3 separate regions of the Homo sapiens genome follow, and all the other regions are linked to region 1. The links come from fine-mapping of genetic effects on gene expression. A gene starts in region 1. Each other region holds a variant in brackets. All regions are shown on one strand. Distances are from middle to middle.

Region 1 (8,268 bases):
GGTCAGAAAACAATGTCCTATGGGAAATCATTAAGATAACTGGGAACATTTTGCCCAGAAGAGATAAAACTGAGGGATGATAGAGGACTGGTTTCAAGAATCTGAAGAGGCAGAGAACCTTGATCTGGGCTGCTGTGTAGCGTAGGGTTTGGGCCACCTGCAGACTTAACAGAGAGGGGGGTTTGGAATGGACGTAGAGGAGTTCCACCGTATTACAGGAGGTTCTAGACCTCCTGGATACAAGGTGAGTAAGACAGTCCTGCTCACCAGGAACTACTAAAGATGATAAGCGTAGACCTAAGTGACCACAATAAAACTGGAAGGTGACCCCGCTCATCCTCTCCTGAAGACCCCTGGCCTAAGCTCAGCTGGCAATGTAGAAAAGCCACACTCTACCAAGAGCCATTTCAAACTTACTGCCATGCAAGGGCCATCAAAAGCTCTGTGGACATAGGCTGGGCGCGGTGGCTCACTCCTGTAATCCCAGCACTTTGGGAGGCCGAGGCGGGCAGATCACTTGAGGTCAGGAGTTTGAGACCAGTCTGGCCAACATGGTGAAACCCCGTCTCTACTAAAAATACAAAAAAATTAGCCAGGTGTGGTGGTGGGTACCTGTAATCCCAGCTACTTGGGAGGCTGAGGCAGGAGAATCGCTTGAACCCGGGAGGCAGAGGTTGAGAATGCGCCATTGCACTCCAGCCTGGGCAATAGGGCAAGACTCCATCTTAAAAAAAAAAAAAAAAAAAAAGGCTCTGTGGACAGAAACAACATTCAGGAGGAAGGCTTGGAAAGCACTTCTCAATCCAGTCTTGTAGATGCTCCAAAAGGTACCCCAGTCAGCTGAGCACCCCAATTTGCTTCTTTTCCATTCCTCTTTGCTGGAATGTCTTTTCCTGACTTGGGTTTTGATGCGATGCCATCAGCTTACATTCAGGGGGATCACAGAAACTGTCCAACCGAGCTCACTGTTGTGACTGTTTTGGGGATGTTGTCAGGGACGTTTGCTCATTACCCCATACTGTGTTCCCTTTCTGGGCCACGCCCCCACAAGAAATTCCTATCTGATTTTAGTACCAAGAATAGTTGTAATTCCCTTGAGCAGTAGGTCTGTTTTTATCTCATGGACACTGGGAATTGTGTAATGAACATGGTCTCCTCATTTTAGCTGCAGGAAAGCTTAGGGACAAATTTGTGGCCCACTCAGAAGAGGTGTAGAGGTTGGAACTCCAGGGTGCATTGGACCTGTATCCTCCTCTCGACTTTGTCTCCCTTCTTAGCTTTTCTTTGTTCTCTTACTTCATATTTTACTGTGCAAAACTGAGAGCATACAAGCAAAGATAAATAAAAATCACCTGTAATCTCATTATTCCGAGATAACCACTATTAACTGTGTTGTCTTTTTATGCATACTTTTTAAAAAATTAAAATGACATTATACTGTGTGTTTTTAATTTGCTTTTTTCATATTATAATATGTCATGAACATCTTTCCCTGTAATTAAGTGTTCTCTAAATGATTTAAAATTTCTGTATAGATCAAGCGACCTCATACTAACAGCTAACATTTCTATATGCATGTACTATGTGCCTGGTTTTATGCATATTTACATTTGCATACATGAGAAAGCCTATTTATATGTGTTACAGACCTGCAATATGTATGTCTATATCCCATCAGCTATAATATTCAAATGTGTCAACTCACGTGATGCTCACAACCCAGTGGGGTAGAAAGTATTATCTCCCTTGTACAGATGGAGGAAACCAAGGCATAGACTTTCCATAGTCACACAGCAGAGGCAGAATTTGAACCCAGGTACCCTGGCTCCGAAGCGTTTCCTCCTAAGAGCTATGCTGCCTTTCAGTATACCATTGCGATTTCACAGGTCACCATGGTTAACCATTTCATTTATTTCCTTTGACCTCACTTTTAATTTGTTATTGTGTCATATTTTATGTACCCTTGTAAGTTACCTGAAATCCTTTCTGCCACAAGGTGAGGTAAGGCATAAATAAACAGTGCAGAGTGTGGTAAACGGCACAAGAAGGCACAGCTAAATTGCTACCCCGGGGTAAGAAGATGAATCCAGGCTGTCCTGCAATGGAATGGATTTATTTTCTTGAGCTGTGGTGAGCTCCCATCCCTGGAAGAGCTGGCTTGGGTGGCCGTCTCTCTGGGAGGCTGGGGAAGGCCTTCTTCCAAGGAGACGGAGCTGGGCCAGACGAGCCCCGAGGCCCCTTCTTAGATTCTCAGGGTTTATGAAAATGCCAATAAGACAAACTGAGGCACTTAATGGAGCTAATGCAGCAAGGCAGCCCTTGGGCCGGAACCAGGACCTGGGGCTTTTCATCCGGGTCTATTACTGGACCACACATCTACAAGTAACAAATAAACGAGCAGAGATTCCGTTCCAAACTCTCGGCCCAGTGTATTCCTTTCCCAGAGCTCTCTGGCTGCTGTTGCAAGATGACCAAAGGATGCTGTCACTGTCCTCAGTCTTTTTATTGGGGCGATGGAGAATGAGGCAAGGAGGGGCTGGGTGGCCCCGCAGATGCCCCATGACACCATCATTCGGCAAGGTTATGCATTTGACGAATGCCCTGCAGTGGAAGGAGCCCAGGCTTCTCTTCCTGTTTTTGATGTTTACTTGGGGGTTGATCTTGTGCGAGTTTCTTCAGCTCCCGGGACCCTCAGTTTCCTCATCTGCAAAATGGAGTTAATACAACAGCAAAGCTGCTGTGGAGGTCCCATGAGCTATTACAGGGCTTTGCACCCTTAAAAATGCGGTTGAGGAAGTACCGATACGCCTGCCTCAGGGGATCTGGGGAGGGCTGGGCTGTCCCCATGCCTGAGACCAGGCAGGCCCGTCTTGGAGGGGCGGTGGCCAGCGTCCAGGTGCTGCCAGCTTCCTACCCCTTCAGCCTCCTGCCCACCACTGCTCCCTTGGCTAGAACGAAGCCGCGTTCCCGACAGACAGGCTCACGCACGGTGATATCCGTGGGAGTGCGGGCGAGCAGCCCCTCCTCGCCGGACCCCGGGGGCTTCGGGCAAAAATGGAGAGCAGGCAGAGGTCACATCCTCCTCCTCTTCCTCACGCTCCCGGGCTGCGTGCCCACAGGGGCACAGCCCTGTGCGCGGTGCCACCGGGGGCCATCAGGCTGGGTTAGAGGAAGGCCCGACCTCCGCGCAGCAAAGAAAACAAACACAGATGTGTTTGGCTGGGACCGGGAGGGAGAAAGTGGCCCCCTTCCCCCGCCCGCGCGCTCCCCCGGGCGTGAGGCTCTCCGGGCGGCGCGGGGCGCGGGCGAGGCTGACAGTCCCCGGCGGCCCCTCCTCCCCCACGGGGTGCGCGCCTGGCCCGGCCCAGCCCCCTCTCCGGGGTTTCCCCGGGTGCTCTCCTCGCTTTCTCTTTGTCTCTGCTGTTCTTTCTCGGGCTCCCGGGTTCCCACCCGCCTGTGCTCTCCCTCTCGGGCGTCCGGGCCGGTTCCCTTTAACTTTCTTCTTTCCCGGGGTGAAAACTTTGCTCGGAGCTGGCGGCAGCTCGCGGACGTTATTGGCCGGCGCCCCGCCCGGCGGCCCCGCCCCCCGCCCCCGCGCTCCCCTCCGCCCCTCACTCCCAGCGCGAGTGGCGGCGGCGGCGGAGCCTTCGGGGGCGAGCGCGCGTGTGTGTGAGTGCGCGCCGGCCAGCGTGAGTGTGTGTGCGCCCCGGGCGCGGGCAGGGCAGCACTCCGAGCTCGGCGGGAGCGGCGGGAGCCGGGCGGCCGCGTAGTCACTCGGGCGAGAGAGGCGGCGGCGGGGCCGGGACCGGGGCTGGGGCTGGGGCAGCGGCGGCCGCGCCGGGCATGGAGCTGGCAAGCCCGCGCTGAGGCGGGACGCGCCTGCTAGCAGCGAGCGAGAGGCTCTCCGGCGACCGGCGCGCGGGCTCCCCGGAGGGGCCAGGCAAACTTTTCTTTCTCTTTTGCCCCCTCCAGAGGTAAAGTCCCGAACGCGGACTTTCCGGCGGGGACGCGATCGGGGGGCATCTGAGAGGGACCCCGGGCTGCGAGACGAAGGGGCGCGGGCCGTGCAGAGTCGGGGTCCCCCAGCTCTCCTGCGCCCGAAACTTGGGGTGCGAGGGGGGCTGGTCGCGGACGGGGAGACCGGCTCAGGCATGCCCCTCGGGCGGCGTGGGGGCGGCGGTGGCGGGGAAGCAGAGCGTTCTCCCGCCGGGCGGGGAAGAAGGGGCGCGAGCGGTGCGGACTTGGAGGGCCCCGGCTTCGCCGCCCGCGGGACTTTGGGGGAGAGAGGCGGGCAGTCGGCTGCGGGGTGGGTGCCCAGGAAGCCGGGCGTTCTCCCGCATCTCCGCTCGCCACCCCGCCGAGAGCTGGAGGGCGCGGGGCGGGCTGGCTGAGCGCAGCTCCCTTCTCTCCGCAGGCGCCTTCTGCGGCAGGCGGACAGATCCTCGGCGCGGCAGGGCCGGGGCAAGCTGGACGCAGCATGATGCGCGCAGTGTGGGAGGCGCTGGCGGCGCTGGCGGCGGTGGCGTGCCTGGTGGGCGCGGTGCGCGGCGGGCCCGGGCTCAGCATGTTCGCGGGCCAGGCGGCGCAGCCCGATCCCTGCTCGGACGAGAACGGCCACCCGCGCCGCTGCATCCCGGACTTTGTCAATGCGGCCTTCGGCAAGGACGTGCGCGTGTCCAGCACCTGCGGCCGGCCCCCGGCGCGCTACTGCGTGGTGAGCGAGCGCGGCGAGGAGCGGCTGCGCTCGTGCCACCTCTGCAACGCGTCCGACCCCAAGAAGGCGCACCCGCCCGCCTTCCTCACCGACCTCAACAACCCGCACAACCTGACGTGCTGGCAGTCCGAGAACTACCTGCAGTTCCCGCACAACGTCACGCTCACACTGTCCCTCGGCAAGAAGTTCGAAGTGACCTACGTGAGCCTGCAGTTCTGCTCGCCGCGGCCCGAGTCCATGGCCATCTACAAGTCCATGGACTACGGGCGCACGTGGGTGCCCTTCCAGTTCTACTCCACGCAGTGCCGCAAGATGTACAACCGGCCGCACCGCGCGCCCATCACCAAGCAGAACGAGCAGGAGGCCGTGTGCACCGACTCGCACACCGACATGCGCCCGCTCTCGGGCGGCCTCATCGCCTTCAGCACGCTGGACGGGCGGCCCTCGGCGCACGACTTCGACAACTCGCCCGTGCTGCAGGACTGGGTCACGGCCACAGACATCCGCGTGGCCTTCAGCCGCCTGCACACGTTCGGCGACGAGAACGAGGACGACTCGGAGCTGGCGCGCGACTCGTACTTCTACGCGGTGTCCGACCTGCAGGTGGGCGGCCGGTGCAAGTGCAACGGCCACGCGGCCCGCTGCGTGCGCGACCGCGACGACAGCCTGGTGTGCGACTGCAGGCACAACACGGCCGGCCCGGAGTGCGACCGCTGCAAGCCCTTCCACTACGACCGGCCCTGGCAGCGCGCCACAGCCCGCGAAGCCAACGAGTGCGTGGGTGAGTGGGGTGCGGCGGCGGAGCCGGCGGCGGGTGGGGCCGCGGGCGGGAGCTGCTGGGCCTCGCAGCGGCGAGTTCATAGGAGCGCGGGTCGAGGGAACGGCGGGAGGCGCGTTCGCCGATGCCCGGGACCCGGGAGGGCTCAGAGCAGGTCCACTCGCTCGCGTGGCGCTCGTGGTGGACGCCCGAATTTGCGCCCAGTGCTCTCTGCGAAGCCAAGAAGCAGCAGGAGAAATGTTCCCGGGAGGGGGTTTGGCAGAACATTTGCAGATAGGTCTCCGCTAACCCTGGATCCAAACGCAAACATTCATTGCCTTCCCCCTCGTTGGGTTGGACGCTGGGATTCACCTGCACCCACCCCCCTTTCCCAAGGCTGCAGCTGGGCTCGCGGTTGGGGACCCCGGCCCAGTTCCTGGGAAGTTCCAACTCCACACCTACAAATCCCTTGGGAGATGGCAAAGAACTGTTTGTAGTTTGGGGTCAGTTCGGTACCCGACGAGTATCACTCCTGCCCTCCATTTGTCTTTTCATGATTTGAAACTATTTTTGTCTCTCTTTTGAACAGCGTGTTTGTGTTAGCAAAAGAAGAATGATGTGATTTCAATTAATTACTATCTGCTGATTACAACGGAGCGTTCAGTAATTATTTTAAACGAATTCAATTCTGGTCTAAAAAAGTATACCAGATTTTTTTTATTAGCTTCAGGCTTTGGTGAAATTAAACAGTTTTGAATTAACTAAGGGTCCAGCTTCTCACTTTTTAAATAGGGTTTCATTTCCTGAAAGAGAAATCTGACAAAACCGGGTGAATACGGCTGGGTCAGAAATGAAGCTAAAAAAGGATACGTTCTGCTTCTGAATTGGACGACTTTGCTGCTGCAGAAGCTCTCAGAAATCAGTTTCTCCCCATAAAAAGAAAAAAAGGGTGAGGGGAGGTAGCAAGACTACACCTTACTTTTTCAGTATGGGAAGTAAAGCTCCAAAGCCCACATTTATTTGAGCGAAAATTATTTAGTCTGTAAATGTCCCATTTGGTGTGCATCCTTTATGAACGTACAGATTTTTCCTCTCCATCTCCCCATCTCAAACAGCCAGTGTGAGGCTCTTCAATTGCTTTGCCCCTCTTAGGCACATTTCAAAGTTTGCTGGTCCCCACAAACACACGTTTTGAGGTCTGGTTCTGATTAATTGTGTCATGTTGTTGTCGAATAGTTTGTGCCTCATGACTGTGGATGCAGAGTTTTGAGCAAGGGAATGGAAAACATGTCTTGGAGGGCCGGATCGCCGCAGAGGCCCAGTCAGGCGTCCTGGTCTGAAGACGCCGGGCCTCCCGCCTCCTGTTGCAAGGGAGGCCTCCATTTTTACGCTCGTGTCCCGCTCTTGCAGACATAATTGTTTGTCCCCTTTCTTTTAAGGATCAGAACTAGTTTCCAGTCTGAAGACACTTTTCAAGATTTCGCAGAGAGAGAGAGAGTGTAGTTACACTCCGACTTAGTAGTCTTCTAGAATAAAATTCCTTTGATCTGCTCAGTTCCCTCGGAAATGTTGGTTTTTCCCATCTCTTCTTTTCCCCCTCCTTCCTCTTTTCTTTTCTTCCCTTTGTGCGTAAAAGCCCTTTATTGACATTTAAAGGGATTCCCAGGGTTTTGCTATCAGTTTTAGTTTGTATGTGCATATGAAAGATAACTTTGTCTTGTCACCATCAGGGTCTAATTGGACAAATGCAAGTGAATACATTTAGGCGAATAAACTTGATGTGGTGGTGAAATTTCTCTGGCTTGAAGATTTGCCTTAGCGTTGGTATTGTTCAGATTCACCACCCACCCCCAGGTCTTGCCGTCAGTTTGGATGTGGACACGTAACCTGCGTTTGTTATAATGATGGTCATGCACTTGAAATAATCTCTATAGTTTGGGATTTTGTCTCTTGACCAAAGCACTAACTATGCACACAAATTGGATTGACCTTTTTTTTTATTGGCTAAATTGAGCAATCAACATATTAACGAATGTAATTAGTAACCGTTTTTGTTCAAAAAGTTTAATTAGGCTTAATAAGTACATAATCTACATGACAAATGATTGGCTAACAATATTTTTCTGGGTTTTACTGAAGTTATTTTAATTCCCAGTAGTTAAAGTATCTTTAAATCTTGCCAATTATTCAGTCATCTCATAAAAGCAAAGCCAATTCAACTATGTTAAAGTTATTTATAGTTTCCTTTTTGAATAGATGTTCTGATACCTTGTAGATATAGCTGGGAACATCAGATTGAAGTTCCCATAAAGTCTTAATTGAAGTCTTAGTGATTTTTCCATCATTCTGTAAAAGAGAAAGACAGCAAGGACAATTTAGGGGTGATTTACAATTAAAGGTTGAGCTTTTTATGAAAAGGCCCTGTAGTGGAGATATGTGAATGAATTAGTATTTGACAGGTGTTCTGAGATACTAAAGGGCACTGTGCTAGGAAAAAGCATTAATAAATCCTTCAAAAGTAACTTTGGACTATCAGAGGCTCAGATTTTCCTCCCAACATAATCTCTTCTTGCGAATTTCACGCTGTTGACATATAAAGTCAAGCTACCCAGAGTATTTACAACTATGGCAAAGTCAAGAAGTATATATTTTTTAATTCCCATAATCAGTCTTAATAACAATGAGCCTATTACTGTGCTGTTTGGTCTTTGCTTTTATAAAATAATGATATGTGATTTATAATAAATTGAAATGGTACCCTTCCCTAGGTTAACCCTGTGCCCCACCCTCCCGCAAA
Region 2 (8,268 bases), 320 kb after region 1:
GCAACCTCCGCTTCCCAGGTTAAAGCAATTCTCCTGCCTCAGCCTCCCGAGTTGCTGGGACTGCAGGCGCCCGCCAACACGTCCAGCTAATTTTTGTGTTTTTAGTAGAGATGGAGTTTCACCATATTGGCCAGGCTGGTGTCGAACTCCTGATCTTGTGATCCACCCACCTCGGCCTCCCAAAGTGCTGGGATAACAGGTGTAAGCCACCGTGCCCAGCCTACTTTCAATTTCTAACTGGGTATTTAGAGGGGTAGTAAATATAGCTAGAAAAAAAAAGCTTCAGGGTGAAATGGTATGTTTGATATTTACTCACCAAGGTCTTCCCCTTTTATTATCACTTTTTGTTAGTTTCCATTCTTATTCCTACAAGGCCACAGCCAGAAGTGGGTGCAGGAGAAATGAAGTTCTGAACATTTGAATGAATGCCTATTTCAATTCCAATCATTCCCTGGAAAATGTTAAGTTTAAAGTAAAATGGAATGAGGTAGTCCTAACAGCTCAGGAAACAATAAAAGGGAACTGAGAGCTTTACACGTCAGAAAAACTCTCAGACAATGCCTAAGAGGATTGGAAAGAAATTTCTAAAACATGTCGTCCCTACAAACACACATGAAAAACTATCTTGAGAATTCCACAGGAAAATATACATCCATTTAAAAAAGAAACTTTGAAGCACAAAAATTAAAGAGAAAAGGCTTTTTCCCAGAATACAAAACACTGCTTGAGTTGTGGAAGAAAAAGAGCTCATTAGTATTTCAAAGGAGGTTGATAACTTATTTCAATGTCCATACTGGGATAGAGGATGAGCCAAGTAGTATACTCCTCAAAATCCTAGGGACCACTTACTCTCCTCTGCCATCTCTTATTTTATTTCTTTTTTTGAGATCGAGTCTCATTCTGTTGCCCAGGCTACAGTGTAGTGGTGTAATCTCAGCTCACTGCAACCTCCACCTCCTGGGTTCAAGCGATTATCTTGCCTCAGCTGGGATTACAGGCACACGCCACCATGCCCCGCTAATTTTTGTATTTTTAGTAGAGACGGGGTTTCACCATGTTGGGCAGGCTGATCTCGAATTTCTGACCTCAGGTGATCTGCCCGCCTTGGCCTCCCAAAGTGCTGGGATTACAGGCGTAAGCCACTGTGCCCGGCCAGAACCTGCGTATTAACAAGATCCCCAGATACTGCGTCTGTGCTGTTCTGGAGGACATACCATCCCAAATCAACCCTGAAGGACTGAAAAGTTAGTGAAGGGAAATGCGGGATAGAAAAGAGGGCAGGTATTCTGGGTAGAGGCGGGAATGTGTACAAGGCCACCAAAATAAAGGAAAGCCAGGGATGCCAACTGTTCAGGGTGGCTGGATCCTAGTCCATGGAAGAGAAAAAGAAAGTGTGTATTGAGAAAGGGTGCAGTGTGGCCAACGGGGAAGGAAGTGAAGGAAGATTCGGCCTGAGACTAGATCCTGCTAGGCTACGGAAACCAGTGCTGAGGAGTTTGGACTTTATTCTGAGGGCTTTGGGGCACCTCTGAAGGATTTTTTTTTTTTTTTTTTTTTTGAGATGGAGTCTCACTCTTGTCGCCCAGGCTGGAGTGCAATGGTGTGATCTTGGCTCATTGCAACCTCCGCCTCCCGGGTTCAAATTATTCTCTTGCCTCAGCCTCCAGAGTAGCTGGGATTACAGGTGCCCGCCACCACGCCCGGCTAACTTGTGTATTTTTAGTAGAGATGGGTTTTCACCATGTTAGCCAGGCTGGTCTCAAACTCCTGACCTCAGGTGATCCGCCTACATCAGCCTCCCAAAGTGCTGGGATTACAGGCGTGAGCCACAGCGTCCAGGTATTCTGAAGGGTTTTTAAACTGAGGAGTGACTTGATCAGATCCCCTGAAGACACATGGTGCTTCAGCTCATTCCACTCCTGAGTAATTCCTTACTCATTTCAAACTACCAAGAGTCCACCCATTTTGTCTGTGCTAACTCAAGTCTCTTCCAGTCATGGTGGCTGGAACTGATCTGTTTCTCAACCCTCAACTCCTGCAGCACTGTGGATGGACCACTCACATGGTCTTTGTCATGGCCACTCCATTTCTGCAGTGAGATTTTTGTCTACTCTCTTCTACTGATACAGCATAGCTTTTCAAAGAACAGTTTCCAAGGACCACCTATTTCAGGATCATCTGAGGGTATTTAATAAAATCAATTTCCAAGGCCCAAGACCCCCTGAATCGGTATCTCTGTGTGTGGGGCCCAGATGTTTGCATTTTAAAAAACATTCCAGTCAGATGACGTGGCTTACGCCTGTAATCCCAGCACTTTGGGAGGCTGAGGCGGGTGGATCACAAGGTCAGGAGATCGAGACCATCCTGGCTAACACAGTGAAACCCTGTCTCTACTAAAAATACAAAAAATTAGCTGGTTGTGGTGGCGGGTGCCTGTAATCCCAGCTACTCCAGAGGCTGAGGCAGGAGAATGGCGTGAACCCGGGAAGCGGAGCTTGCAGTGAACAGAGATCATGCCACTGCACTCCAGCCTGGTTGACAAAGCGAGACTCCGTCTCAAAAAAAAAAAAAAAAAAAAATTCCAGGTGAAGCTCTTAAATATGAAAGCCAGAGAATCACAGTATAAGACTACAGCATCCTGAGACCCAGAGCCATCCCAGAAACCCTAGAATCAGACACCGCACCTCTGTCTACAACCTTGGCATGCGGCTGCTCAGGGAGACAAGTAAACGAAGTGTTTTAAATTCCTCTCTCTACTCATTCTTGATTACATAACTAATCAAAATGCTTCCAAAAACCAACCAACCAATCAAGAAAACTTCTAGGAACTTAATTAACTCCAGTATAAAAGGACTCCTCAGGCCGGGTGCAGTGGCTCACGCCTGTAATCCCAGCACTTTGGGAGGCCGAGGCAGGTGGATCACGAGGTCAGGAGATCGAGAACGTCCTGGCTAATACGGTGAAACCCTGTCTCTGCTAAAAATACAAAAAATTAGCCAGGCGTCATGGCAGGTGCCTGTAATCCCAGCTACTTGGGAGGCTGAGGCAGGGGAATTCCTTGAACCCAGGAGGTGGAGGTTGCAGTGAGCCGAGATCGCGCCACTGCGCCACTGTACTCCAGCCTGGGCGACAGAGTGAGACACCATCTAAAAAAAAAAGGACTCCTCATTCCTGCTGTGTACTCTGTCTATTGGCCTATGCTCAGAAAGGGCTTTTTCTTTATGAGACAGGAATGTGCCCGGCTTCTGTCATCACATATATAAGACAGACAAGACTGGAATCAAACTTTCCCACAGAATTGGCGTAAGGACCGAAAGAGACATTATGTATCTTTGAAAGCGCCATGGATACTGCTTACTCTGACTATTATTATGAATGCTTTAAGTTGGTCATTTAGGAGCTAAGAAACACTGATGAGATTCTGTCTTGTATGAGCATGATTGTGGTGTTTCTTTCTCTCTCCTGCTGGACTTTAAGCAACTTGAAGGTAGGACTCTAAGGCTGACGCAACCGCGGGATCCTCCCATAGCACAGCATTGCTGAAGGGATTCAATAAAAATGTGATGAATGGGTGAAAGATGACCATGTCACAGAAGCCCACGTGTAATAAATAGTTCATTTGGAATGTGCACCTGCGTGGGAATTCTCCAAACACCTGCCGAGGCCAGTAACTCCTGTTTTCTCAGCCTATCAAAGAGGGCAGCTGCTCCTTTCCC[T/A]CAGGTGACCTTCTCTCATTTATCAAAGCTGGAAAGGGCTGTGATTTTCCCCAACATGCAGACTCTCTGAGCAATTAATAGCCCTCTCAAACAGACTTGTCCTCTAATGTCGATCTGGGAAAATGCCATTTAAAAATTTGTTTCACTGAACATTTTCACAAAATGAAAATTAGAAGATATTAAAGGCATCTGGCTATGTTAAGTAACGGGAATTTATAGTACTTAAATTTATCTGCAAAAGGAAAACATGATAAACACTAGCATGGTTTTCTATCATTTAAATCCTAAATTCACAGGATGGAACATTCAACTCCTGATTTTCCAGAAAATCTACTCTTATGAATCCTAAAGTTATCTTGAAAGGCAGGCTTTGTATTTTTCCAGTGAATATATTGCTGTTTCTTATCAATGTTGCACTTGATTTTTTTTTTTTTTTTTTTTTTTTTGAGATGGAGTTTTGCTCTTGTTGCCCAGGCTGGAGTGCAATGGCGTAATCTGGGCTGACCGCAACCTCTGCCTCCCGGGTTCAAGCGATTCTCCTGCCTCAGCGTCCTGAGTAGCTGGGATGACAGGCATGTGCGACTATGCCTGGCTAATTTTGTATTTTTAGTAGAGACGGGGTTTCTCCATGTTGGTTAGGCTGGTCTCAAACTCCCGACCTCAGGTGATCTGCCTGCCTCGGCCTCTCAAAGTGCTGGGATTACAGGCGTGGGCCACCGCACCCAGCTGAAATGATTTTTAAATTGTAAAATTTAAATTATAAATTATAAATTATATATATAAATATATATTATATATATAAATTATAAATTGTAAAATTTAAAATTGTAAATTATAAGGGACTCTTTTCTCTAGTAGATACCACCTTTAAAGTATCATGTGGAAAGTCGAAATTAAGCAATTTCACATGGAAATGGAGGTTTTGGCTTGCCTTGAAAAATCAGAAGAGACTGCGATATTGGGCCCACATTGCTACCTGGCAACAATCACCTGGGGCTGACCTCTTGAGAGGGATGCTCTCTGGTTTTGCTTCTCTACTGCAGCCTCACTCCTTTCTATGCCCGCCTGGCCTCCACAATGAATAAAGAGAAGGAGGCATGGCTTCTCTTCCAAAGATACATATATTCATGGATCTCTAATAAACGAAAGAGTGAAAATACGTAATTGGCATAGAGGGAAAGTAGAGTAGTCGCCACAAGACATGACTTTTTTGTTTGTTTGTTTTTTGAGACAGAGTCTTGCTCTGTTGCCAGGCTAGAGTGCAATGGCGTGATCTCGGCTCACTGCAACCTCTGTCTCCTGGGTTCAAGCGATTCTCCTGCCTCAGCCTCCCGAGTAGCTGGGATTACAGGCATGTGCCACCAGGCCTGGCTAATTTTTGTATTTTTAGTAGAGACGGGGTTTCACCATGTAGGCCAGGCTGGTCTCGAACTCCTGACCTCAGGTAATCTGCCGGCTTCGGCCTCCTAAAGTGCTGGGATTACAGGCATGAGCCACCGCGCCCGGCCAAGACATGACTCAAGTGCAGCTGAAGCAAGATTTGAAGTTGAACAGCAACTGAGGGGAGCCCACTGTGTGAGCAAATGCTGAGAAGCAGAAATGGACAAGCTAGGTTTGGGGGAGAAGAAATAACTGGTTTGGCTATAGTGGGAGGTTTCCATAGGGGTAGAGGAACAAGGTGGCAGACGAGACCATGTAGAGAGACCGTGGAGAGCCTCAGATCCAGAGCCAAGGACTGTGGGCTGTGCACTCTAGGGCAGCCATCCCCAACCTTTTTGGCACCAGGGACCAGGTTCACAGAAGACAATTTTTCCACGGCCTGGAGGGGAAGGGGGAGATGGTTTTCGGGATGAAACTGTTTCATCTCAGATCATCGGGCATTAGAGTCTCATAAGAAGCACACAACCTACATCCCTCGGATGTGCAGTTCACAATAGGGTTTGCGCTCCTATATCTAATGCTGCCACTGATCTGACAGGAGGCGGAGCTCAGGTGGTAATGCTCGCTCAACCACCGCTCACCTGCTGCTGTGCGGCCCAGTTCCTAAAAGGCCACAGACCGGTACCAGTCCTGGCCCAGGGGTTGGGGACCCCTGCTCCAGAGCCAGGTTGGAGCTCTCCAAGGTTTACACTAACAAGGGCCTGGCAAGATAAGAGTAGTGTTTCAGGATGATCCAGTGGGGGGCCCTTCAGAGAATGGTGACAGAGAAAATGCAAAGGGAGAGCCCTAAGCGTGCAAGACATGCTATGGCCTGAGGGGCAGTAGGCACTGGAGGAGGAGAAAGAGCTCCACATAGGAAAGGAATTGTCCAGCCAGAGCTACGGGAAGAACAGTGGTGCCAAACACAAATACCGGTGTGGGCTGGCTTCTTGTCTGGGTTTCAAGTGTGTGTGGCGCGTGTGTTTATGATAGTGGGGTGAGGGGTTGCAAATGATGAATTTGGTTTAAACTTTTTGAGTGCCAGGAAATGACAGGGAGATCAAGAGACAGATGTGCAGATAAAAGTGCAAATGGCCGGGCGCGGTGGCTCACGCCTGTAATCCCAGCACTTTGGGACACTGAGGTGGGCAGAGCATGAGGTCAGGAGTTCAAGACTAGCCTGACCAATATGGTGAAACCCCGTCTGTACTAAAAATACAAAAATTAGCCAGGTGTGGTGGTACGTGCCTGTAGTCCCAGCTACTTGGGAGGCTGAGGCAGGAGAATCGCCTGAACCCGGGAGGCGGAGGTTGCAGTGAGCCAAGATTGTGCCATTGCACTCCAGCCTGGTGACAAGAGTGAAACTGTCTCAAAAAAAAAAAAAAAAAAAAAAAAAGCTGCAAATGTGAGGATGCACTGAGTGGTAAGGACAGCTGGAGCCAGGAGATGGAGAAGGTTTCTAAGAAAAACATGCCCCAAGAGGATCTGGACCACAAAACCCAGAAATGCTTCTGCTCCAGTTCAAGAAGCAGTGGAGATGTGATTCTTCGATACGTAGCCTTAGAAACCAAACCACACTGTTGCCCCGGGTACTCTCAACCACTCCAAGTTTTTATAGAGCCTTTGGAATGATGGATGGGGCTCAGTTTACCCAGAGACAGTAAAATCAGATGAAAGGGGTTAATTAGAACTGTTCTCTCTACTGCTAGGTGCAAAACAGCCACATTGGAGCCATGATGAAGCTACGTCTATTTAAACAGCCAAACTGATCATTGTAACTGTTTTCTCTCTTAAAATAAACCCCATGCTTTTAGCCATATTCCTGCTTCTTAAAGCCTCTCATGTGAAAGATGCCAAAATAATCCTGGACCTTAAAGAGGTCTTGATTTATCATTTCACAGCTGGTTCCCATGCACCTCCCTTTCCACTTTTTCAGAGCCTCACTATATAAATCCTGCCATCAGATCAGGGAGGCAGGCATGGTGGTGATGGATGTCAAACCTGCGATGGGGAAAGTGAAGAGCAGTTCCCTACTGGGAACAGATAAGCCAGCAGACTTCTCACAGACTGCTCCTGTTACCAACTCAGCCAACCCCACCCCCTCCTCCTGCTCCCTTGGCCCTCCCCATCTGCCGGATAGGGCCTCCCTTCTGCTGCGAAGCTTCCACTCCTGTAGTGTTCTGGTTTGCGTTCTTTGATGAGAAATATTAATTCCAGGTTAATACTGATGTTAAAAAATAAAAGCCCGACCTAATTAAAAATTCAAGTTAATTTTCACCCAGGTTCCCTTAACTTTTAAAAAATGTTCTTTTTGTAAAAAAGAGTAAATAGGTTACATGAGGAGGCCCAAGTACCAGGAATTGATTAGTGGCACAATGAAAAAAGTTACAAAATATAACAACAACCACTTAAAGCAAAGTTAATCTAGTTTGCTCAACAGCCCAGGACTTTTGCTGCCTAAGTACAGGATGCTTCCTTGCATATACTTGCAAATTTCACCTTTTAGGCTAAGGAGATGTTTTTCAATTGATTTGGGAAGGAGGAAGGGGTCAAGACCACGGAGGCTCCAGGTAAAATGCTGTAGGTGGGCAGTCTGCCTCTGATACTAAACTTTTTTTTTTTTTTTTTTTTGAGATAGAGTCTCGCTCTGTTGCCCAGGCTGTCATGCAATGTCGTGATCTTGTCTCACTGCAACCTCTGCTTCCTGGGTTCAAGCAATTCGCCTGCCTCAGCCTCCCGAGTAGTTGGGATTACAGGCGTCCGCCACCACACCCAGCTAATTTTTGTATTTTTAGTAGAGACGGGGTTTCGCCATGTTGGTCAGGCTGGTCTCAAACTCCTGACCTCAGGTGATCTGCTCACCTCAGCCTCCCAAAGTGCTGGGATTACAGGCATGAGCCACCAAACCTCTTCCTTTCTTTGCTCTCTTCCCATCACCCAGCCCTCCTCTGTTCAGTGCCCAGGCACACTGAGACCCCACACTGCTGTCTCTGGCCTGCAAAGATGCACAATGCCACCTCATGTAGGCCTGCTTGCCTGCCCCACCCACACCCCCAACTCAGGTCATAACATCACTTTCCCATCAAAGCTCCAGTTTCCCTACTATGGATGATTTCCTGGTGATATTTTTAAA
Region 3 (8,000 bases), 140 kb after region 1:
AAAGTGGAGGCTGAGCTCCCAGAAGGGGCTCAGAGGTTAGGGCAGGCCCCTCTGGAAAATGCAGGAGAAGGACATTTGCCTCCAAGAAGGACAGGATGATGCTGTTATCAGGCCTTTCCTGGTACAAGGGAGGCCTGAGGAAGTGAGGCCTGGGTGATCCTTCCAGATCCCTGTCCCCAGGCAGGTGTTCCAGTTCCTGTGATTTCTGTGCTTGTAAGAAAGATGTAGATTCTGACTGTAGTCTAGGCCAGCTGTTACTTCCAGTGATAGGGGTCTTTTCCTCTGAGCCAGTGGACCAGGAGCCAGAAGGGTAGGGTTCCCATCCTGGGCCCCCCCATTTACTGGCTCTGTGGTCCTGGGCTGGTTGGTCATTTCACCTCTCTGAGCAGGCCCCTGTCACCCTTGTCTGGCAGAGTGAGTCCAAAGAGAGTGAGTGTGTGCAGGCGTGACAGTCGTCTGCAGGAGGGCAAGGTGCAGCTGCAGCCTCTTTCTTTGCACTTGGTTGAACTCAGCCCTGGGAACACTTGCCGGAGGACAGTTAGCAAGGTTCTGGGACTCATCCCCTGGTCTAATTTGGCTTCTGGCTGCTTTCAGACTTCAGGGCAGGAGCTGTCTTTTCTCCTGCATCCCACACTGCTTTTTCTAGGGCCCTGTCCACCTCTATTTGTAAATGAAATGACTAATGGGTGAGTGACTTGGCAGTGACTCTAGGAAGAGCACTTAAAGAAGCTTGTCATAACATCAGAGAGAAAAATTAAAGAGGCACATGTTTTTCTAAAGATCACAAATTAAAGTAACATGTGAATGAGAAACTTAAAAATATTTACAGCTTATATGGCAGAAAAGACAAACAATGTTTAATCCTCCTGATCACTAGACAGCATGAAAAAAGTCCACCTTATTTGAAAACTGGGCAAATGGCATGAACAGGCAATGCACAAAAAAGAAATATAAATAGAAAAACAATACATGGGGAAATGCCCAACCTTCCTAGTAATCAAAGACATGCAAATTAAAATCGTCTGTGTGTGTGTGTTTTCTCTCAGACAGAGTGGCCAATATTTTTTAAAAAGAATGCCGATACCAAATGCATATTATTATTTTCAAGCACGTGGTGAAATAGGAGCTCTCATATCCTGCTGGTAGGTGTATAAGCCAGTACAGCCTTTCTTGAGGGCAGTTTGGCAATTTGGTGCCAATGTTAAAAACATGTAGAAGGGCTGGGCGCAGTGGCTCATGTCTGTAATCACAGCACTTTGGGAGACCGAGGTGGGTGGATCACGAGGTCAGGAGTTTGAGACCAGTCTGGCCAACATAGTGAAACCCTGTCTCTACTAAAAATACAAAAAATTAGCCGGGTGTGGTGGCAGGCGCCTGTAATAGCAGCTACTCGGGAGGCTGAGGCAGGAGAATCGCGTGAACCTGGGAGGCGGAGGTTGCAGTGAGCCAAGATCACGCCACTGCACTCCAGCCTGGGCTACAGAACGAGACTCCATCTCAAATAAATAAATAAATAAATATAAATAAAAATATAAAAACATGTAGGTTCAAAATTCAACCCAGTAATTCCATCTAGAGAAATTTGCACTACAACAGTCATTGGAGCAGAGCACAAATATATATGTTCAAAGGTGGTTCAAGGTGGTTACCTTTATGTTCAAAGGTAGTTGACATTTATAATAGTGAAAAATGGGAAACGACCTATAGGTGCCCAACCCTGGGAGGTCCTTCTTTTAAATGCCTCCACTTCCAACTCCAAGAGGCCCACTATGCATAGCCATGCAACACAGTGCCAGAGGAATTTTATTTTTTAGTTTTTAATTTTTGTGAGATAGGGTCTCGCTCTGTGGCTCAGGCTGGAGTACAGTGGTGGCTCATGGCAACCTCCACCTCCCAGGTTCAAGAGATTCTCCTGCCTCAGCCTTCCGAGTTGTTGGGATTACAGGCGCAAACCACCATGCCTGACTAATTTTTGTATTTTTTAGTAGAGACGGGGTTTCACCATATTGGCCAGGCTGGTCTCAAACTCCTGGCTCCAAGAGATCTGCCCACCTTGGCCTCTCAAAGTGCTGGGATTATAGCTGTGAGCCACCATGCCCAGCCCGGACATCTTTTAAACATTGTGAAGATCAGTATTTGACACAAGAAAATGTTCATTATTATGAAAAAAAACCCCCACAAAACTAGATGTATAAAAGTATGATCCGTGTTTGTAGGAAAGAATTAAATAGCTCCACAACTGAACAAATGTTAATGAAAGCCTGAAAGGAAAGATCTCTGTAGCAACTGTGGTTGGTAGAAATAGGAGTGTGTTCCTTTCTCTTCCTGCTTTTGTTTTTTGAGTGCATGAATTAAATATATATTTCTTAGGTTGGGTGTGGTGGCTCACGCCTGTAATCCCAGCACTTTGGGAGACCAAAACAGGCAGATATCTTGAGCCCAGGAGTTCGAGACCAGCCTGGGCAACATGGTGAAACCCTGTTTCTACAAAAAAAAATACAAAAAATTCGCTGGGCATGGTGGCACATGTCTGTGGTCCCAGCTACTTGGGAGGCTGAGGTGGGAGGATCTGACAAGCCCAGGAGACAGAGGTCTCAGTGAGCCAAGATCTGTGCCATTGCACTCCAGCCTGGGCAACAGAGTGAGACCCTGCCTCGAACAAAACAAAACAAAACAAACCCAGCATGTATTTCTTTAGAAATTCCATAAAACGTGATTTAGAACACACTGAGCGTGAAACCATGTTGTGGAGTGAACGAGAAGAGGCCAGACCTGTGCTGGAGTAACCCTGGGGTTGGAAGCCTAAAGAAGAAGGCAGGTGACAGGCAATCCTGATGTGGCACAAGGAAAGCTGTGTGAGGCCATGCTGGGTGCCCACGCCAGGCTGGTGGGGTGGAGCGGGGCTGGGAAGTAACATTGGAACCAAGACCTGGGGGATGAGAAGGAGGCAGCCAGATAAAACGGGAGTGTCCTGGGAGGAAGGGAACAGCATGTCCAGAGCCCCAGAGGGGCAGGCGAGGGGTCCTTGCACGTGGCTCTAGAAACAGACCAAAGTTTGGAATCACTGGAGCATAAAGAGCGAGAGGCTGAAGGACGAGACAGGACCAGCTTATTTGGAGCCCTGAAGGCCATGCTGAGTGCTTTCGACTTGATCCTGATGGGCGCCCTCAGATTGGTGCTTAGAAATCCTGCTCTGGGCTGAGTGTGGTGGCTCACGGCTATCATCCCAGCACTTTGGGAGGCTGAGGTGGGAAGGTCACAAGGTCAGGAGTTCAAGACCAGCCTGACCAACATGGTGAAACCCCATCTCTACTAAAAAGACAAAAATTAGCCTGGCGTGGTGGTGTGCACCTGTAATCCCAGCTACTTAGGAGGGTGAGGCAAGAGAATCGCTTGAACCCGGGAGGCGGAGGTTGCAGTGAGCCGAGATCAGGCCACTGCACTCCAGCCTGGGCGACAGAGAAAGACTCCCGTCTCAAAAACAACAAACAAACAAAAAGAAATTGTGCTTCTGCTGATCATGCTGAGGGGAGCCTGTGGGACTCAGCTCAAGCCACAGGGAACCTGAGGGCAGGATGGTAAGGAGTGAATGATGTCGGGCAGGTGACTCTGGGTTCAAGTGGAGACCCCAGACCTGAAGCTGGAAATACTGATTTGGGAGTTGGGAGCACAGAGATGATGAGTGGTGAAGGAGACAGATGGGGAGGGTGTGGAGGTGGGCAGGGAAAGGGAGCTGAGTCCTGAGCAATGCTCATGGGGAGGGAACAGGTGGAGCAGAGCCATAGCTGACAATGTGGGGGTCCTCTCCCCAGAGCAGGGCTGGGCAGCCTCCGGAAGCTGGACAGGTTGAGGTGGGAAGAACGATGGTGTGCAGGCCCCAGAGTCCTCGGTGGACGAGGGGGAGGGGGAGAAGGGGAGGCCAGGCTGGCAGCAGGGGCCTCAGTAGTTTGCTCAGCTGCTACAACAAAGTGCCACGGGCTGGGGGCTGAAACGCTAGACGTTTACTTCTCACAGTTCTGCAGCCTGGAAGTCCAAGATCAAGGTGTTGGCAGGGTTGGTTGCTCTGGAGGCCCTTCTGCGTGGCTTGCAGATGGCCGCCCTCTGGCAACGTCCTCACGGGATCTCTCCTCCGTGCACATGCGTCCCTGCGTCTCTCTGTGTCCTCATCTCCTCTTCCTACAACGACACAGTCATACTGGCATAGGGCCCACTCTGAGGGCCTTGTTTTAAGACTCTGTCTCCAAATATGGTCACATTCTGAGGTACTGGGGGTCACGGCTTCAACATAAGAATTTTGGGAGAACCTTAGCCATGTA[T/C]TGTTACGTGCCCAATAAATGCTTACGGGTACAAACAGGAGGAGCCGAGGAGGAGCTCCTGGAGCACAAGTCTGCCTGCCTGGCTCTGCTAGTGGAGAAGGGAGGAGTTGAGGGGTGGGGTTTCTTTTGACGCTCTTGGGTGCCTGTCCTCCCCGCGCCCCTGCGGCTGACACCTCTCTCTGTCTCCCCCTGCAGCCTGTAACTGCAACCTGCATGCCCGGCGCTGCCGCTTCAACATGGAGCTCTACAAGCTTTCGGGGCGCAAGAGCGGAGGTGTCTGCCTCAACTGTCGCCACAACACCGCCGGCCGCCACTGCCATTACTGCAAGGAGGGCTACTACCGCGACATGGGCAAGCCCATCACCCACCGGAAGGCCTGCAAAGGTGGGCTACACGTGGCGGGGCGGGGGGCTGGGGAGACCCGGGGAACATCAGTCCTCCCGCTCCCTCCTCGCTTCCTTTTCTATTTTCTTCCAGTCTGTACAAATTGGCGTTGTCTGAGGTCATCTCTCTCTCTTTCTCTCTCTGTGACACACACACACACACACACACACACACACACACACACGCCTCCCTGGTATTTGGAGGTGTAAGCCAAAACAAAGGGGTGATGGAGACATGGCTCAAAGGAGAAGAAAGGAGAAGGTGGGATCCCCTACAAGGGTGCAGGGCTGCGGCCGCCAACACCTCTCCCTCCCCTCCCCCTCCTGGGCTTCTCCTCTGCACAGGTGTGCTGCATACCAGAGGGCTGCGAGTCATGTTCGCCAGGCTTACCGTTGGGACAAAGGACTCTCTTTCACCAAATGCACGCAGACTCACTTCTTTGGATATGTGCGCACCGCCCCTCACTCCCCCCCGAAACACACACACACACACACACACACACACACACACACACACACACGTACAGTCACAGCGGAGTCGGCAGTTTCAGGGGCAGGGTCTCAGAAGGAACATTTAATCCATCTGCAAATAGCTTTACTTCTCAGGACAAAAAAAAAAATTAAAAGGAGACGGGAGACTATTTTCGTCCACTGAAGCAAGCACTAATGTTTTAACTTTCTGCTGTTTGTTTTTCTCGTACCAACAAAAATGAAGCAATGGTCAGATGATTCAGAGAAGTTGATGAAATGCCAGAGAATTCAGTGATGCTGGAGGGTGAGAAGCGGGGCCCCCCCCACCCCACAAAATCTTTTGGGAATTCCAGGAACCAGGGCTTTCCTGCTGCAAAACTTGTGGCCTAAGGTCAGGGCCTGCCATGAACATGGCTTCCCAAGAAGATATTTACCTCTGAGGGCTCATGGGCAACACCTCGGCATGGGTGGGGTCCTGACCTGGACTTGTGTAGACCCGAACACACCAGGGTCCCAAGCCACGGCAGACAGGCCCAGGTGGCGTCCTGCAGGAGAGAAACCCTTCTGTGGCCACTGCTCAGCGTGTGGATGAAGCAAAAGTATCATCTTCTTAACAGGAAGTCCACCAGATGTTGGGCACTTGTGTGCAGGACTGACTGCATAATTTGCAGGGCCCAGTGCAAAATGAAAATAGGGGGCTTCCAGCACTTTGGGAGGCCAAGACGGGCGGATCACCCTAGGTCAGGACTTCAAGACCAGCCTGCCTAACATGGTGAAACCCCATCTCCACTAAAAATAGCAAAATTAACTGGGTGTGGTGGCGGTTGCCTGTAATCCCAGCTACTTGGGAGGCTGAGGCAGGAGAATAGCTTGAGCCTGGGAGGCGGAGGTTGCAGTGAGCCAAGATCGCGCCACCGCACTCCAGCCTGGGTGACAGAGCGAAACACTGTCTCGAAAAAAAAAAAAGAAAGAACATCTTGGGGGAAAAAAAAAAGAAAGTAACAAAGTAGGGGGCTTCTTATTCCAGAGATATTAAGAATTTTGAAACAAGGACAGCAGAGTTTCAACCAAGCTGGTGCCCTTCTGAGCACGGGGCCCATGAATCCAACCCAGCCCTGCTTATGTGGAACACTTTTCTCAAAATAAACAGGTTCCCAATCTGTCTCTTCCAGGAGAAATCCCTTTGATTCCAAATGCACAGGCATAAGTAGAATGGCTCCCTCGGTCAAGCAAGGTGTCCTTCTGTGTCTGCGGACTTACGGCTGCCTCTGGTGGTTGCCAAGAGAAACATGAACAGAAAGGTAGCTGGGCTGTTTCCACATTTTTTAAAAAATCACGGTTTCAGGTGAGAATCCCCCAGAAGACTGAGCAGAGAATGAATGGGAAGGTGGCCCAGGCAAAGGGACCCGAGAAACATCTGCAATGCCAGAAAGGTGTGACCAGGACAAGCCCCGGGAGAGATGGCTTTGGGCTTCCAGAGAACATAGTTGGAAGGTATCCAGCTCCTTTGCCTGTGCCCAGAGTGTTTGTTGTCTCTCTTTTACAGAAGAAATGGAGGCCAGGGGTCTTGTAAACAGCTGGCTTGCACATAGATTTCTTGGGAGTTCAGCCAAGAAATTTTACCCAACAGCGGCCACTCAGGTGGGCAGTCCTGTGCCTGAGAGTGAGAAGGTCTGGGTGAGAAAGGGCACTGGTCACTTCCTGTCATGCCAGTTTCTGCTGTCCAATTAGAAATGTATGTTTCCCAGAGAGGCAAGAAGGGGCAGGGCCCTGGTCACCTCCACCTACACCCTGTTGCTGTGGACAGGGACAAGAGCCATTTGCAGCCTCTCACCACTCAGAGTGAGAGACGTCAGGAAGCCACAGGGTCCCGGGAACCCGCAGGCCATTCTCCAGGGGTCTGCCACTCTGGCTGAATGGCATGATATTGCCCACCTTCCTTTACTGGTTTGTAGGAGGGCCAGATGCAAATAAATGAGGATGTGTTCTTGTTTTACGAGTTACAACATTGTGGCCAGCCTAGGTGGCTGTGTTTTCCTTCCCAGCCATGGACAGCAGCTGCCCCGGCCTTGGTGGGAACCCTGGGAGAATAACTCACAGGACGGGAAAACCTAAGGATGGATTCTACTCAGAAAGACACAGGCAAATTCTACTGAAGAAATGTGGCAGGAAAGGGTGGGACTCTTAGTGCCTGTTGACTGGGGAGGAATGACAGTGTTTCAAGGAAACTGCCATCAGATTGGTGAAGAAAGACAGTGCTTCAAGGAACTTGTCACCTGATTGGTGACAGAAGACTACACTTAAAAATATTTGCCACCTGATTGGTGAGGAAAGACAGGGCTTTGAGGTTTCTGCTTTCTGATTGGTGAGAAAAAGCATTGCCCAGAGATCTCTGCTTCATGATTGGCAAGAAAATATCTACTCTCTGATTGGTGAGCAAAAATTTGACCCAAGAAGTCCAGCCATCTGATTGGTGAAGAAAGACATCTCTGGAAAGTCCAGATCTTTCCCCTCAGCTCTTTCCTTTCCTGGTATCATGCTCTTATGGGATATAGGACACTTCCCACCAAAAAGAGACCCTGAGATCTTGGTAGGAACCATCGTTAGGAGAAGTTCAGATGCTGGCGGGATGTGTACCCTTGAGATCTTCAAACAGGGGTCTCCTGGTCAACCCCCTTCCACCACCACCACCACCACCACCACCACCACCACCACCACCACCACCACCACCACCACCAGCACCTCCTGCCTTGTATTCCCAGGGCCAGATGGTTCAAGGAAATGGTTCCTTGCGAGGTTTGATATTTGACAGTTTGCTCTCAGAGGCTTC

Which allele goes with the higher level. Positions count from the first base shown, and alleles are read on the strand shown. Sizes are in standard deviations (SD) of each study's normalised expression.
For the expression in pancreas of the gene that starts at base 3,614 in region 1, allele T in region 2 goes with a lower level than allele A (large effect, 0.89 SD a copy in GTEx).
For the expression in tibial artery of the gene that starts at base 3,614 in region 1, T is the low allele of the variant in region 3 and C is the other (moderate effect, 0.53 SD a copy in GTEx).

What was found. PIP is the estimated chance that this variant, and not a neighbour inherited with it, causes the effect.
Region 2: its variant is fine-mapped to the expression of NTN1 in pancreas (GTEx, PIP above 0.99).
Region 3: its variant is fine-mapped to the expression of NTN1 in tibial artery (GTEx, PIP above 0.99). The same link has a PIP of 0.9 or more in aorta.

Annotation. Positions count from the first base shown.
Region 1 is chr17:9,017,897-9,026,164 of GRCh38, forward strand. NTN1 (netrin 1) reads left to right here and starts at 3,614. Exons shown (of 7, transcript NM_004822.3): 1 at 3,614-3,689; 2 at 4,415-5,495. The coding sequence starts at 4,478. RefSeq lists silencers at 2,976-3,025, 3,076-3,865 and an enhancer at 3,012-3,555.
Region 2 is chr17:9,336,513-9,344,780 of GRCh38, forward strand. The region is part of intron 7 of STX8 (syntaxin 8); the gene reads right to left. Among named protein-coding and RNA genes, the nearest start is that of STX8, 240 kb to the right of the region's middle. The variant T/A (reference allele first, on the strand shown) is at 3,717.
Region 3 is chr17:9,158,302-9,166,301 of GRCh38, forward strand. NTN1 (netrin 1) reads left to right here. Exons shown (of 7, transcript NM_004822.3): 3 at 4,512-4,700. Among named protein-coding and RNA genes, the nearest start is that of NTN1, 140 kb to the left of the region's middle. The variant T/C (reference allele first, on the strand shown) is at 4,317.